Linked DNA regions of Homo sapiens. The protein of the gene in region 2 purifies or fractionates together with the protein of the main gene of each other region. This does not show direct contact. Each region holds a gene or a part of one and is shown on either strand. Other genes may lie near its edges.

Region 1 (8,665 bases), on a different chromosome or scaffold from region 2:
GGCGGGGATAGGGGAGGGCATTGAAGTTCTACAATTCTGGAATAGTTAGTTGATGGTACATAGTTAACTTGGCTTCGGTTACATATTGGACTTTAACAACTGAAGAATCTATGCGTGTCATTTAAAGAAAAGTTGCAGAACAAGCAATTGGCTTAGATATACAATCTGGAAAAATATTCCTGTGCCCATATTTTAATGTAATTGTATAACTGGGAGCAAAAATATATTCTGCTTTTCAACTGTAGGTGCTCCAGACTTGCTCTCCGTCACTAACACTAAATGTGCTGTTTTCCTTGTTTTTCATCAAACATTTAAGACAAACTTAGACCTTTCTGTAAATTATCTTTTAATTTCTCAGCAAAATCTAAAAGGGGAAGAAAAAAGTCCATGAAAACTAAAACTTTTCATGTTTTTAGCCAGTGAGAAGATAATAAACCCTGACTGTAGAAGGTGTGTTTTCATGCAAACTATACTTCTGAGCTTGTTAGCTTCTAATTATATCTTAATAAATATATTTTATTACTAGAGCAAGATGGGTTTTTAAGGAAAATAATGTGAAATTCTGGAAATTTTCTTTGGGGCAGAGAAGAGCATTAGCCCTGTCTTATCATTACATTGCCATCCTGTTGCACTGCAGCTTGTGTATAGCATGCTAAAATAAATTTTTGTGTGTGTGTGCAGAAATTAAGGGTCCAATTGAGATTGGGTGATGTTAGTAACATAATAACAAGTTGTCTGGCCTGACACAGCATCACATCACACACACAGAAATTAGTATATCCATGTATGTCAAATACAGGTTAAAATATCAGGGCATTTATATAAAGAGTTGTAGTCTTCTGATAAAAGTAGACTGGATCCCCTGGGGTATTTGGGGAGAAAGTAACTACTTTGGCTCTACCCCTAGAAATGTCCAGTTTTGAGTGACTGTAGTATGGATGGGTTTTCTTGTTTTGTTGATTATTTGAGGCTTTTAAAACAAGTAGTTCATGAAAGAAGCTGTTGGACTCAACATAGAGTAGAGTAACTATCTTTTTAGTCTGGATTTCTGCCCTGCTTAGATTTTAAAAGTATAAGCATGGATTGCCAATTCCACTTGATGTAAACAAAACTTTTTTTTATACATAATATATATATATATATATAAAATAACTTATTGTATCAGTCCAGGTTCAGAAACTTGTGGTAGGCCAGTTCCAGATAGTTTCATTTCACCTGTAAACTGTATCACTTTGACTGATATTGTAATTTTCAAATGTATAATATGTTTACAGATGTGCCCTGCATTTAGTCTGCCTTGTTCCTATTTTGATTTTTGTTGAGTCTCCTGCCTGCTTGCCAAAAGCTAGGATGCTTCAGGCCCATGTACAATTGAAAGCAGAGGCATCCTTGAGCTTTAAAGCATTGAACAAACTGGAAAATGCAACATACCACATAACTGAAGTGAAAAAAGTCTGTGTTTTTGTGTTTTTTTAAATAAAAATTTTCAAAAAGTTAAAAAAAAAGACATATAAGGTTGATTAAAGGGAAAAAAGGCTCCAGTTTGTTTTACAGGTTTTAAAGTTCTGCTGTGTGTTCAATTGCCTTGTGTAACCACTTGTCGCCTTAGGGCCAGATTCCCCTCTCTAGTCCCCTTTTTTAAATGTCCATTTTGCTTGCCTGGAATTTTAAAGTTCTTCCGTCTCACAACTCACAAGAAACTTTCTGGGTTTGTGACATACAGAGGTTGAATTGAGTATATATTTGAAAAGGAAAAAACAAAAAACAAACCCAGACCCCACCTGAATTGGGCTTTTTAACTTAGAAGCAACACTTGATTAAACATCTTTAGAAAGCTATTGCTTTTCTAATTTCCTTCCATATCCCTCAGGCCTCAGTGTTCAGAGAAGCCAAAAAGAATGTATCACTTCTCTGTCTGTCCAAAGGTTTTTGAGAGTCTCACTTCTAAATGAAACAATGCAACATTTCACTTTGATTTCTCCACTGAAATTTCCTTGATTATATGGTTAGAGGTATGTAGTTAGGAATGTCTGTTAACTTTCTGAGAACCCTAGTGCCCCATCATATTAACTGTCAGTATTTTGGGGGCATTAGGTTAATAGACTTAATTGCCTAGGTACAAGCAGGACTTTGGGACAAATCTCTTTGTGCTGTTTGGTAACACTTAACTCTATTTGTTGCAATCTTTCTCCTTAGGTCCTCACACAATTCCTTACAGAGCACTTATTAAAAAAAAATCTTAAGAGTTGATCTGTTTTCTGATTATTTTGTGTAAGCTTCTAAACAAACTTCAGCTGTGATTAATTTAGCACATTTAAATAACGTGTTATTGTTTGGTATAAAGAATTTTCCTTCAACTCAGAGTATTAGTACTGTAGCATAAACCAAATACAGTCTAGAGGGGATTTTTAACATCCCTCCATTATAAAGACTGAAAAAGGGGTGTGTGTGTGTGTGTGTGTTTATGTATGTATGTATGTGTGTGTGAGGAAAAGATGGAGATATTAAAAATTAGTAAATGAATGTGTATAAGACATTAGTATTCAGAGAATGAACTTGTATTTATTTTGTGCCATTTGTTTTCATTACACAGAAAAAAGTCAGGTGGTTTAAATCCTTAAAAGGGTAGTATTGAAAAATGGCACTAAGAATGAAATTATGACCTATTTTTTTAATAGCTATGAAGATACTAATTATGGGTGAAGATTTCTTTTTAAATCTGTTTTGATTATTGTAGGCTTCTGTGTCACATACCACTCTTGTAGGTGTCCTCAATAATCCCCTTTTCCCACAAAATACACAGGGTGTATTATCTTTCTCTTTATTCACCCCCACTTTGCTGAACTGAAGTTAATTACATAGCCTTTCTTCTAACCTCCTTAGTAATGAACCTTCACATAAAGTGTATTTACAGCGTCTGTGGTAGCCAGCCCTTCCTCCTCTACTTTCTAGGAGGGGATAGCCAATAACTAGGAATTTAATGACAGATTTTTTTTTCTTTGAAATAAATGGCCAGAGTTTCTCCATTTTAGAATTTTGTTGTCCTCCTTAATCATCTGCTTACCTAGTCATTACTCAATCTGCAGAAACTTCATAAAGGAAAAGTGCTGCATTGTTTTTACAAATAACAGTTTGTAGGGAAAATATGACAAACCTCAACTATGGGAGTTGTCCACAATACAAAATTTTGAAAAAACATTACATAGTGATAATATCATACTTGGTTGTTAGGCTTGTTGCTTCCCCACATCAGAGGCATCTAATGATTTATCTTTTGTAATTGCTGTGAACTTTTTTAAATAAGCCATTTAGTGTGAAATTGTCATGTATCAAATGGCTATTGGAAATGGACTTTACTCAATTTTAATTCCACTGTAAATAAGGACGGAGTCATTCCTACAAGGCTCTCTTCAGAGAAATAGATTAAAAGTCCAATTTCCAGGTATTATTAGTATAGTTATGCCGCTGGGCCACATCCTCAACAACAGCTGATCCCTCTTGTATAAATATGTTAACTGTGCAGAACAGTTATGTTATGGGACAAATATAATGGTCATTATGGTCAGATTGGTTGATGCCACACCAGTCAAGGTAGAGTCTGATAGGGCAGTATCTTAATAACCCTACCCATGACTTAACTGTTGGATTTGAAAGGAAAACGTAGGATTTGCTCTTGTCCCCTTACCCGCCACAAAATTTTGATAATTTGTTTAAAAGGGAGAGGCAGAGGAAAAGACTAGAAGCATAAATAGCTGCTTTAGGTTTGCCAGAGGCACATAGCTTAACATTAGTTCTTAATATCGATGTTATTTTTACTAATGTAATTAATCAACAGAGCACCAAGATTCTTTCATGGTGAAAAGGGTGGGCTTCTGTTTTGGTATCTTAAAATGTTTCTTTTAAAATATACATCACCTGTGTGAGAACCAGGACCACCTGGGAGAGTGATGAATCATTGGCTCCACTCAAAAGCATTGCTTTACTGAGTTTTAAATTTCACACTGTTTTGCCGCTCAAGAAAGGTCTTAAAGTAGTTAAAGGATGCCAGCAATAGTGCGAATAGAATTTTCGGTTGTCTGCATAATAAAAACACCCATTGCAGCATGATTGGTATGTTGCTCTTGCATTATTGGGAATGGTAAATCAGTTATGGGCTAGAAACTATGGAATGGCCGTCCTCATATGTGATGGGATTGCTGATTCAGACTTCCCTATTTTCCATACAATTTTGTTATGTGCAGAGTTCTAAAGCCATTTTATAATACTGCAGTATCCCCCCCCCCCCCACCTTTTTTTTTTTGAGACGGACTGTCTGTTGCCCAGGCTGGAGTACAGTGGCGCAATCTTGGCTCACTGCAACCTCCACCTCCCTGGTTCAAGCAATTCCCCTGCCTCAGCCTCCCATGTAGCTGGGATTACGGGCGCACACCACCACACCTGGCTAATTTGTATTCTTAGTAGAGACGGGGTTTCACCATGTTGACCAGACTGGTCTCGAACTCCTGACCTCAGGCAATCTGCCCGCCTCAGCCTCCCAAAGTGCTGGAATTACAGGTGTGAGCCACCGTGCCCGGCCAAGTATCTCTTTTCTACAGCCTTATTAAACTAACTACAAACATTTATTTTCCAATTTAGTTTTACTTTCAGTGCATATCAAAGTTGTTGTACTCTTCAGACCAACAAATTAACTTGAGGGCAAATTACATAGCTTTCCATGTACCCTTTTTTCCTCAGGTGCTAATCAAAGGCTCTGAAAATGGATACTGCTTTAGTGATGTCTGCTTTATTCTTAAAATGCTTATTTCTTTTGCTAGATGTAAAGATTTGGTGTTAACAAAAGTGGTTTTAATATGTAAATATGAATGAATGCCTTTAGTTTACCCTGTTTGTCTATTATTAATCTGTTTTCATTTATCCTTCATAGAGGAGGATCCTTTCATGATCTTGAATACATTTCATTAGATATTGTTGCATTTTAAGAATGAAAATACAACTGTTTTCTGTCTTAGATTAATCCTGCTGCTATGAGAAACTGAAAATCAAGAATGTGATGCACTTTTTACATTACTATATACCATACATATACCATAGGTTGCTTTGATACCTTTCCTGTAGCACAGCCACTAACAAGAGTGAATGAATTATAAAATTCTTTTTGGGAGGGAATCAATACAAGTAACTAATTCTTAGCTGATATTGTCCTATGAAGGACAATAACTTAGGAATATAAGAATTCTGTTAATAGTACACTTTTTGGCCTTAAATGTCTTCTACTACTGAAAATAGTTTAAATCTTAGCTTTGTTTCTATTATTCCCTCTCTCTGCCTCAGAAAGAGGAATTGGGAAGAATGGCTTAAAGGACGTGGTGTCATTGATTTGTTGCTGATCTTTTAGAAAACATTTGTCTATGTAAGCTGGGGACTTATTTTTTGTTTGTATATAGAGGGGAAATAGTGCTGCCCTGAACCAATCAGATTTAGTTTAAATCAAATCAATCAAAACTCCAGCTGTTTCTCTTGTCTTTTTACTTAGCAAAGGAAAACTTTAGTGAATGCTACTTGACAAGAAGAAAAGTCATTTCTCAAGCACATACCCAAACTTGAAGGTGATTGAACCCAAAATAATGGGTGGGAAACACCAAATGAGGTGGAGGAATGAGAAAGATGTGTGGGCCAAAGCTATCTGGTTATATTTTGATGTTGCCAATATCGCAAAGCCAAAATTTTAATTTGCTTATTTAATATATTTGTTGGCCAGAGATCTATTTTTATATCAATGTGCCTTGCATGTATATTAAAAAAAAAAAATTGGAAACGCCATGTAGTAATGCCTGAGATAGTCGATGGTTCTTACCACCTCACTAATTTTTATGCAGTATGAAATGCTCATTCTATTGCCCAACTGGTGCTCTCTGTTTAAAGTTACAGATCTTGCGAAACTGGAACTATTTTATAAGCTGGGGAAGTGATTTACTTTTTTTGTTGTATCTTTTTTGTTCTTAGTCTGTTAGTGGCTGTCCTGTAGTGGGAAATAGTAAAAGGATTCTTCACTCCCTTCTCCCCTCAGCACCTTCTTCAAGTAAACATTTCTTGTGTGCTTTGAAAAAAGTTTCAGCTTGCTGTCTCTTTTAGTGTTTTAAAGAAGTGTTATACAAAGCATTGTTTGCAAAATATAGGGAGATAATGGAGTCCACTTTAATTTGGAATTCTGTGTGAGCTATGATCCAAGTTATCAGCTCTTTCCAACTTTAAAAATTTTGTTAAAAGCACCTTGCTTAGAAAATTTTAAATATTTATGTCTGCAACAATTGTCTCAAAATAATAAACTGTGCAATTCTTGTCATTAAAAAAAAAAAAGATCTGAATTTTCCCTAATGTGACTTGTTAGTTTCTCTCTGTATTTCCTGCCAGTGTAAATGTGAAAGCTTTGCTTGCATTACGTTTTAGAAATGCATTTTGCACACTCGAATTTTGCCGAAGCTCCGTGAAAAGGTTAGATCTAAGTAGATGAATAAAGCTATGCACATGTTTTGAAAGTTTAATTTGTGTGTCATTACCAAAAGTGACCGATTTGTCCTTACTACTTTGCTGTTGTTAGCTTTACCATCTTTGGAAACTTGGCTCAAAGTTACATAGTTCTGGGCTAGCTCATCAGTGGAACTAGGAGAGAGGAAAACTGGCACCTATTTTAATAAAGTTCAATTTAAACGAGAGCTTGACTTGTATCTATTAAAGAGCTTTTCTTGAAACAGGGCAGTTTTATCAGCTTTACAAATCATTGGATGCTCTTCCTTAGTAATATTTTGGTTTATTTGATCAAATAGAAATGGAAAGTAATTCAAACTGAAAGACCCTTTTTTGTCATATGGAACTTGGTGACGATTTTTTGTCTTAAAGCTGGTTTAAAGGTAGGATAGGCTTTTACCTTTATTGCTTTAGCATAAATTTGGTTTACTGAATTGACTGGCTTGAGATTAGAATTATTCAGTTGTTTGTAAGATCAAAGCACTGGTTGTTTTAAAGATAACGTGTATCTTTTAAAAAATTGCCCAAGCTGATTAGAACAAGTTTAGGAGTTGGGTACATTTGGTTCAAGTGCTGCAATCTGTATGTACTAAATAGCTTTACTTTGTGTATGTGTACTTATAATGTGTAGATGTACTACTACCCAGGTTTTGTCAAATCATCTTTTTTAAAGTTTTTTTTTTTTTAATTGGTTCAGGACCTTTGTAGGAGAGGCTAATATGTTTAAGTAGAAGATATTACTGATAGCATTTTCCCCATGCTCCTACATAAAAAATAAATATTTCCATTTTATAGCTTTTTCAATATACAGAAGAGGGTTACTTCTTCATCAAGTATATTGTTGCCTTTGAGGACACAGCAAAACCCTTCTATATGTATCTTCATTGATAGTGGCAGTTAAAAACTAAGTTATCCAGTTAAGACTTAAAAGGTGACCCATATTAATTGCATGGCCTTAAAAGGCAGAAATGCAGGAGTGTAGCAAGCATCATTTTAGATGGCTATGGTTCCTCTTCCGCATCTGTCAGTAGTTCACTTATGTTCAGTCTTAGAACCTACTGGAGGAGTGAAGTAATTTCTCTGTCTCGTGCAGAGGCACTAAGGAGCTGAGTTACCTCTTAATCTGGGGGAATGGATAATAAGTGGAGTACAGTTATGTTAAAGGATGTTCCCCCCGCTCAAAAAAAAGTTTCAATGTTTGTTTTGCCCAGTCAAAAATATAGGTCTTTTCTACATATAAGAACAGTCACCAGAAATTTTCCCTTTTGCTAAATGCTTAGGTATTTGCTATAGCTGTTTCTGATGTCATGGATTCTGAGGAAGTGTCATTTACGTGATGATCTTCCTTTATTGATGTCTTCATCATGTTCAGTGTTTTAAAAATATAAATTACAAACACTCTACAACCATACCCAGATTTACTTATTTTATCAGAAAAAAAACTTGAGAAATTTGTAGATCAAATTGAGAGACAATAAGTGTACATTGTTGAATAAAAAATTTTAAAGTTTCTGAGGTGTTTGTTATCTTTTGTGTGCTTTAATTTTTTAAAAAGTCTTTACTGACTAATCTTAAATTCAGCTGATAAAAAGTAAAAAGAAAAACAAACCGAAAACTAAGTTTGTGACATTGATAATGATTTTTTTCCAAAGGGTCAAATATGTGAAGAATTTAAGTCTTCAGTATACTATGGTCCTATGATTTTAAAAAAATTTTTTAATCATACAGGTTTTTACAGTGCTTAGAATTAGCTTGCTTATTGAAAAATCCAGAGCTATCCTGCCTTTTTGCAGGACATTAAGCCTTATGCCCTTCCAATTGAAATAAATCAAAATTGAGCTAAGCAGTTGAGCAACTAGAATGTTAAGTTGCCAAGATTCTGGATTTATTCATAACTTTATGTTGAAATATGTGGCAGTACACACTGGAGAAACTTCCTGTTTCTTTAGTACTGATTTGTCACAAGGTGAAAGGAAAATCAATGCCAACTTCAACATTATTAGAAAGAGCAGGAGACGGGAGGAAAGGACATAAAAACATTTACCAAAAGTGTCAGTCGCTATAGAGATTGATAACATTTAGGTCATATGCTTTATTGTTCTTTGAGATAAGGAATAATTGTCCTTGGCCTGGTGAGTGA
Region 2 (8,665 bases):
TTAAGAAGGGAGCAGTTATCACATAGTCTCATTTTGGATTTAAGGATATAGGAGGTCTTACTGTGCATGATGGACAGTAATGATGATATCGTTCGGTCTTTAGAGGTTGCCCTTTTCATCCTCTTAGTGCTCTGCAAACAGCTAAGTCTCTGTGAACTGCGTGATATCGCTGATCATAATATAAAACCGTCAATACAGGAAAGTAGCTGTTAACCATATCTGCTTAAGAGGTCAGAGTCTGAAGTAAACAGCTTTGTGTATGTGATAATCAGGATTTGCTTGTGAGCAACTTGTTCATTTTTTTTTTAAGGAAGGCATAATCAAGGAGCATTTTCTTCATAAATGTTGAGATCTGTTGACTTTAAAATTTTGAGTTTCACATGCCTTGGTGTATGGCAGAAAGAATCAGCACTCGTAAGCTAGTGTATTTTATATAAGAAATGTAACGGGGTTGCTGGGAGCGGTGGCTCACACCTGTAATCCCAGCACTTTGGGAGGCCAAGACAGGCGGATCAGCTGAGGTCAGGAGTTCGATACTAGCCTGGCCAACATGGCAAAACCCCGTCTCTACTAAAAATAGAAAAAATTTAGCTGCGCGTGGTGGCAGGCGCCTGTAATCCCAGCTACTCGGGAGGCTGAGACAGGGGAATCGCTTGAACCCAGGAGGCGGCGGTTGCAGTGAGCCAAGATTGTGCCACTGCACTCCAACCTGGGCGGCAGAGCGAGACTCCGCCTCAAAAAAAAAAAAAAAAAAAAAGTGTAACGGGGTTAAATCAAAAGCCAACAGAGTAGGGCTTTGTTTTCGTGTCTTTGTATGTTTTTATTAACTCCAATTAAAAGTAAGATTTCAGCCGGGCACGGTGGCTCTCGCCTGTAATCCTAGCACTTTAGGAGGCTAAGGCGGGCAGATCATTTGAGGTTAGGAGTCCAAGACCAGCCTGGCCAACTTGATAACACCCCGTGTCTACTGAAAAATACAGAAATTAGCCAGACCTGTAATCCCACCAAGCTACTTGGGAGGCTAAGGCATGAGGATCGCTTGAACCTGCGTGGTGGAGGTTGCAGTGAGCTGAGATCGGGCTACTGCACTCCACTCTGGGCAACAGAGTGAGACTCTGTCTCAAAAATAATAGGCCGGGCGTGGTGGCTTACGTCTGTAATCCCAGCACTTTGGGAGGCCGAGGCGGGCGGATCACCTGAGCTCAGTTGTTCAAGACCAGCCTGGCCAACATGTCGAAACCCCGTCTTTACTAAAAATACAAAAATTAGCTGGGCATGGTGGCGCATGCCCGTAATCCCAGCTACTCAGGAGGCTGAGGCAGGAGAATGGCGTGAACCCAGGAGGCGGAGCTTGCAGTGAGCTGAGAGCGCGCCATTGCACTCCAGCCTGGGTGACAGTGCAAGATTCTGTCTCAAAAAATACAATAAAAAATAAAAGTAAGTAAGATTTCCATTTACGGGATAATTTTAAACTGAGGTTGACTAGTTTTGTGGGTTTTGTTTGTTTGTTTGCTTTGTTTGTTTTTAAGTCAGAGTATTGCTCTTGTTGCCCAGGCTGGAGTACAATGGCATGATCTGGACTCACTGCAGCCTCCACCTCCTGGGTTCAAGTGATTCTGCTGCCTCAGCCTCCTAAGTAGCTGAGATTACAGGGCCACCACGCCCAGTTAATTTTTGTATTTTAGTGGAACGGAGTTTCACCGTGTTGGTCAGGTGGTCTTGAACTCCTGACCTCAGGTGATCCACCAGTCTTGGCCTCCCAAAGTGTTGGGATTACAGGCGTGAGCTACCGTGCCCCTCCTACCAGTTCTTTTTTTTTTTTTTAAACTATTAATTAGCTTTACTACTCTGGATTTCTTGGAAAGTTTTCTTAAAATTACTAGTGTGTTTAGTCTTCCGCGGATTTTTTTTTAAACAGGAATTTTCCTGTTTTTTTAAATTTAAAATTAGAATAGTTATTAGCTAAGTTTGTTATAAATGAATAAAATTATTAGAGTCATCTTGGTTTTGTCAATTTCAAAATAAAAATTCATTTATACAAAATTTGTGTATATCATCCGTCCTTGGGATCATTACTTGCTGGATGCATTATGGCAGAAATACACTATTCTCTTGACTGCTTCATTTATTGTTTTAAAGGACAAAAAGGAAAAAAGAAAATACATTTTTCTTCTTAAAGTTTTTTGTTGTTTTTTGAGACAAGGTCTCTGTCACCTGGCTCACTGCAGCCTCCGTCTGCCAGGTTCAAGCGATTCTCGTGCTTCAGCCTCCCAAGTAGCTGGGACTCCATTACAGGTGTGCACCACCATGCCCGGCTAAATTTTGTTTTTTGTTTTTTTTTTCTTGTTTGTTTTTGTTTTTGAGACGGAGTCTGGCTCTGTCGCTGAGGCTGGAGTGCAGTGGCACAATCTTGGCTCACTGCAACCTCCGCCTCCTGGGTTCAAGCAGTTCTCTGCCTCAGCCTCCCAAGTAGCTGGAATTACAGGCGCTCGCCACCACGCCTGGCTAATTTTTGTATTTTTAGTAGAGACAGGGTTTCACCATCTTGGCCAGGCTGATCCTGAACTCCTGACCTCATGATCCACCTTCCTCGGCCTCCTAAAGTGCTGGGATTACAGGCATGAGCCACTGCACCCGGCCTAAATTTTGTATTTTTAGTAGAGATGGGGTTTCGCTATGTTGTCCAGGCTGGTCTCTAACTCCTGACCTCAAGAGATCGCCCGCATTGGCCTCTCAAAGTGCTGCGATTACAGGCCTGAGCCACCAGCACCCAGCCCATAAAGTTTAATAGTTGAAATTTGTAAGGGCACAAAGGTGTTTTTTTCTGGAAGTGTGAAGTTCAAGTCAAAAGCTCACTTAAATCTATAAGGACTCTCGGTTGCTATTACAAGTAGAAGAAAATTAATGAATTGTCTTGTTTAAATTGTGTGATACTTCAGTGAGTTGTAATGCAATTAAGTATAATGAATCACTGACTTTTAGAGATGTCAGAGACTTAGAGAATTCATGGGGAGGAAACTGAAGAGAAGAGATTATCATTGACGAGTAGTGCTAATTTACTAGTCTCTTTCTACTTAATCTCTGGATTGCTTTGAATTAACAATTTTAAATGTTTGATATTGGCCTCATTGTGTTTTTGAGATAGTTCAAAGTTGTGTCTATCCTAGCTTGGCTCGTGATTTGGTCTAAGTGTAGCTGTATTATTAATTCTTTAATATAAAAGATGAGAATTCTTTTAAAGGGGTTCTTTTAAAAGGGAAACAAAGTTTTTCTGTTGTGTTTGCTAATTTAATTTTGTTTGTTTGTTTCAGATTGACGTGAGTGAATTCAGATATAACTCAAGCTTGTTAGAGGGCTTTTTAAAAATAAAAAGTTGATTCCGTGCAAGAGAGCAAGTTACTGCTGCTTACCGTTCAGAGACTTACAGGTGCTTGCCTGCATTGCAATAAAGGACTCATTTATTGAGCAAGACTTATATTTATCTCTTCATTTTGGAGAGCCTAATAAACTGTTATTACAGTTTCTCTACTGACTTTCAAAAGTTTTGAAGTTTGAAAGACCTTTGCAATTAAAACAGCATGAGCACGGCCAGAACAGAGAACCCTGTTATAATGGGTCTGTCCAGTCAAAATGGTCAGCTGAGAGGCCCTGTGAAACCCACTGGTGGCCCTGGAGGAGGGGGCACACAGACACAGCAACAGATGAACCAGCTGAAAAACACCAACACAATCAATAATGGCACTCAGCAGCAAGCACAGAGTATGACCACCACTATTAAGTAAGTGTTAGAGTAAATTATTAATAAACACTTGTGGGGAACCAAGATTTGTGTTACTTTGGTGTTGACTATTAATACTTATGCCTTAATTTAACCATTTTGATTCCAAATAGAGGACAGATGACTTTGTTTTATGGCCAGTAGGTATTTGCAATAGAATAATATATTTCTGCCATAATTTGTTCAGCAAGTAGTCATCCTGAGGTCAGATGATACACACAAATTTTGTATAAATGGTTTTTGGAAACATTTCTGGCTTTCATAATTAGTGTAAAAGTTATTAGCTTAGTTTGTTGTAAATGAATAAAATTATTAGTCATCTCGTTTTTGTCAGTATAGTTTTTTTACGACTGCACCTTACCCTAGTTAAACAGCAGATAAAGCCAACTTTATGTATTAAATTTAAAGACTCAGTCTGAGTCTTTAGAGTCTTTAAAGACTTGCCCAGCCTTCTGAACTCCAAGCATTATTCACTCAGAAAATTTTCTCGTAACTTTTTTTAGCTTATGGAACTTAGCTTTTTTACTTTAAAAAAAAAAAAAAGTTGGCTGGTTGAGGTGACTCATGCCTGTAATCCCTGTACTTTGGGGAGGCCAATGTGGGAGGATCACTTGAGTCCAGGAGTTTGAGACCAGCCTAGGCAACATAATGAGACTCTGTCTCTACCCAAAAAAAAAATTTTTAATTTTTTTCCTCCTTTTACATATAAAAAGGGAACTAAGAATTTTGAACTCACAGAACACAGTTCTGAACAGTCTCAGAAACCTTTTGTTAACCTTAAAATTGAAGAGCCTCCTCTTACTAGAGGATATTTTTTCTTTTAAAGCTGAAAGTATGTAGGCTATTTGTTACTTTTAAGTGCATAGTTTAAATTACAATATTTGAATGGTAACCATCACTTTAAAGATTCAGTTATAGGAAATTAACATTTAAGATTCTTGACTCCAGTTGATGTTTGGCTTTTGTTAAGAACTTGCCATATAGGTCCGGGTGCAGTGGCACACGCCTGTAGTCCAAGCACATTGGGAGGCCAAGGTGGGCGGATCACCTGAGGTCGGGAGTTCGAGACCAGCCTGACAAACATGGAGAAACCTTGTCTCTACTAAAAATAAACCCCGTCTCTACTAAAAGTACAAAATTAGCTGGGCGTGGTGGCACATGCCCATAATGCTACTTGGGAGGCTGAGGCAGGAGAATCACTTAAACCCGGGAGGCGGAGTTGCAGTGAGCCGAGATTGCACCATTGCACTCCAGCTTGGGCAACAAGAGCGAAACTCCATCTCAAAAAAAAAAAAGGCCAGGTGCGGTAGCTCACGCCTTTAATCCCAGCACTTTGGGAGGCTGAGGCAGGTAGATCACGAGGTCAAAAGTTTGAGGCCAGCCTGACCAACATGGTGAAACCCTGTCTTTACTAAAAATACAAAAATCAGCTGGGTGTGATGGCATGCGCCTGTAATCCCAGCTACTCAGGAGGCTGAGGCGGGAGAATCACTTGAACCCGAGAGGTGGAGGTTGCAGAGAGCCAAGATCGTGTCACTGCACTCCAGCCTGGGCAACAGAGAAATACTCCATCTCAAAAAAAAAAAAAAACTTGCCATATAAAATAATTTAACCCTGGGAATCTTTATAAGATGTTGACACTGGGTTACTGAACTGAGGTATATGTTTTATTACAACCTAGATCTTTTCACTTCCTACAGAAAAATAGCTTATACAAGCTACCAGACTGTCATATAGTTACCGTATGTGGTTCACTAGGACCTCTAAGAACTAATTTTCAGCAGAATTGGTTAGGTCATTGGGAGAATTGGTATTAGTGTATATTCTGTTATTTTTAAGGTGAATGCTTTAATTGGTATAGAAATGAATACTACTTCAGTTGTAGTTTGTCTTGGCAGAATGTAAGTAGGTTAGCAAAATTTAGACTATTTTTAATTTTTTTTATAACTTTTTTTTTTTTTTTTGAGACAGGGTCTCACTTTGTTGCCTAGGCTGGAGTATGGTGGCACGATCATGGCTCACTGCAGCCTCAACTTCCCAGGCTCAAGTGATCCTCCTGCCTCAGCCCTACAAATAGTGGGGACTACTGGCATGCACCAGTAGCGACGGCGTTTTGTCATGTTGCCCAGGCTGGTCTGGAACTCCTGAGCTCAAGTGATCTGCCCACCTCGACCTCTCACAGTGCTGGGATTACACATGTGAGCCACTGCGCCCAGCCTATTTTTAATTTTTTTTTTTTTTGAGATGGACTCTCACTCACTCTGTTGCCCAGGCTAGAGTGCAATGGTGTGATCTCGACTCACTGCAACCTGCACCTCCTGGGTTCAGTTCAAGCCATTCTCCTGCCTCTGCCTCCCAAGTAGCTGGGATTACAGGTGTCCACCATCACGTCTGGCTAATTTTTGTATTTTTAGTAGAGATGAGATTTCATCATGTTTGCAGGCTAGGCTTGAATTCCTGACCTCAGGTGATCTGCCTGCCTCGGCCTCCCAGAGTGCTGGGATTACAGGCGTGAGCCACTGCACCTGGCCTATGAGAATATTTTCTATTTAAAAAATTCTGGGGCTGGATATGATGGCTCATGCCGTTCATCCCATCACTTTGGGAGGCTGAGGTGGGAAGATCACTTGAGGCCAGGAGTTTGAGACTAACCTGGGCAACATAGCAAGACCCTGTCTCTACAAATAATAAAGGCTGCAGTGAGCTATGATCGCACCACTGCACTCAAGCCTGGGTGACAGGGTAAGACCCCATCTCAAAGAAATAAAAAATAAATTCTGATTTGGGGACAACAGTGGATTTTGATTTTTCTTTTCTGGTTTTCCTACGATTAATGGTTTCTTTTCAGTTCTGCGGTTCTTCAAATCTCATTTTCTCTGCCCTCTCTTCCATGAAGTCCTCTAGATCCCATCAAGTGTCTCAGAACACTTCTAATACTTAACCTCCGTCACTTACTTTCTCATTTTAAATAGTTTTTTCATCTCATAAGATTATAAATTTCTTGTGGTCAGGTTTTGCATTGTATCTTACGCATTATTATTCACTATTTTGTTGAATTCAACGGTATGTCAAACTGACATCAGAAACTTCGATGATACAGGCTTAGATGAAAGGCTTTAGTAGGCCGGGTGAGGTGGCTCACGCCTGTAATCCCAGCACTTTGGGAGGCCAAGGCAGGAGGATCACGAGGTCAGGAGTTTGAGACCAGCTGAATCCCCGTCTCTACTAAAAATACAAAAACTAGCCAGGTGTAGTGGCAAGCTCCTGTAATCCCAGCTGCTCTGGAGGCTGAGGCAGGAGAATTGCTTGAACCCCGGGAGGTGGAGGTTGCAGTAAGCCGAGATCATGCCACTGCACTCTAGCCTGGGTGACATAGCAAGACTCCATCTCAGAAAAAAAAAAAAAAGGCTTTAGTACAGTAGTAGTCTTGGAATTGGTAGCAAAAAGTTACCAATGTTAGAGTATGCATTATGTAGGACCTAGTTTTAAGTAAAATAAGTGGTCTTTTTGTCTGTGAATGGAGCATTTGAGATGTTTTGGGGACTCTGGTTATGTAAGAACAGCTGCAGTGAAAACTTTTTCGAAGATGTCACAGTTAAATACTTTGTCTGCAGATGTTCCCTGATCTTTTTTTTTTTTTTAAAGATGCTTTGAGTATTTATTACTTGAGGTTTTTACCTGGCCAAAAAGAGAGTTTATTTATATTCTCCTTGTTTTTATTCTCTTTCATGATTTCTAGCATTTCCAATAAAAAAGAAAGATTAAGAGATGCTCATTGGCTAATACTGTGCTATTATTTTGCCAGGCACTGTGCTGAGTGCATTATATCAATTGTTTGATGTAACTGTTAACCTATTTTGTTTTATTTATTTATTTGGAACGGAGCCTTGCTCTGGCGCAGGATCTTGGCTCCCGGGTTCAAGCAATTCTCCTGCCTCAGCCTCTTGAGTAGCTGGGATTACAGGCACATGCCACCATGGCTGGCTAATTTTTGTATTTTTGGTAGAGAGTGGGTTTCACCGTATTGGCCAGGCTACTCTCGAACTCCTGACCTCAGGTGATCCGCTTGCCTTGGCCTCCCAAAGTGTTGGGATTACAGGTGTGCGCCCACCTTATTTATTTTTGAGACAGAGTCTCCCTCTGTCACTCAGGCTGGAGTGCAGTGTCGTGAGCTTGGCTCACTGCAGTGTCCGCCTCCCAGGTTCAAGTGATTCCCCTGCCTCAGCCTCCCGAGTAGCTGGGACTACAGTTGTGTCCCACCATGCCTGGCTAATTTTTGTATTTTCAGTAGAGGTGGGGTTTCACCATATTGGCCAGGCTGGTCTCGAACTCCTGACCTCAAGTGATCCGCCCACCTTGGCCTCCCAAAGTGCTGGGATTACTGATGGGAGCCACCACGCCTGGCCTGTTAACCTATTTTAAAAATGAGAATAGCCGGCCATGGTGGCTCACACCTATAATCCTATCACTTTGGGAGGCCGAGGCAGGTGGATTTCTTGAGCCCAGGAGTTATATAAGATATATAAAATCTTACAGTTTTTAAATGTTGAGAACTAATTTAAACTCATTTAAATTAAAACACATGCTGTGTAGGTCAAACAAAACACCTTTTGACAACAGTTACACTGTATACAATATTGCTTAAGAGGATGGATGCCTTAATCCCTTCTGTTCTTGATTTTTTTATCCTCCTGAGATTCTCTATAAGAACACTTTTTCTAAAGTTGTTTAATTATCTTGTTAGATATATTAAATGGAATATATTAAACTTACTGTGCTTTTTTAACACTTAATTATAATTGAGATGAATCATCTTTGTTAGGATGCTATGAATTTTGATACTTCAAGTTTACTGTATTCTCTCTAGACCTGGTGATGACTGGAAAA

What was found. The genes of interacting proteins can lie anywhere in the genome.
Region 1: the proteins of DDX6 (region 2) and NUFIP2 purify together in Homo sapiens (affinity purification with mass spectrometry; 7 studies listed by BioGRID and IntAct, with this or other methods). This does not show direct contact.

Annotation. Positions count from the first base shown.
Region 1 is NC_000017.11:29,255,211-29,263,875, reverse strand, and holds the end of NUFIP2 (FMR1-interacting protein NUFIP2), read left to right. Parts: 3' UTR 1-8,037; downstream 8,038-8,665. UniProt on the Homo sapiens protein: Binds RNA.
Region 2 is NC_000011.10:118,781,165-118,789,829, reverse strand, and holds part of DDX6 (probable ATP-dependent RNA helicase DDX6), read left to right. Parts: intron 1-3,311; 5' UTR 3,312-3,578; coding exon 3,579-3,778; intron 3,779-8,645; coding exon 8,646-8,665.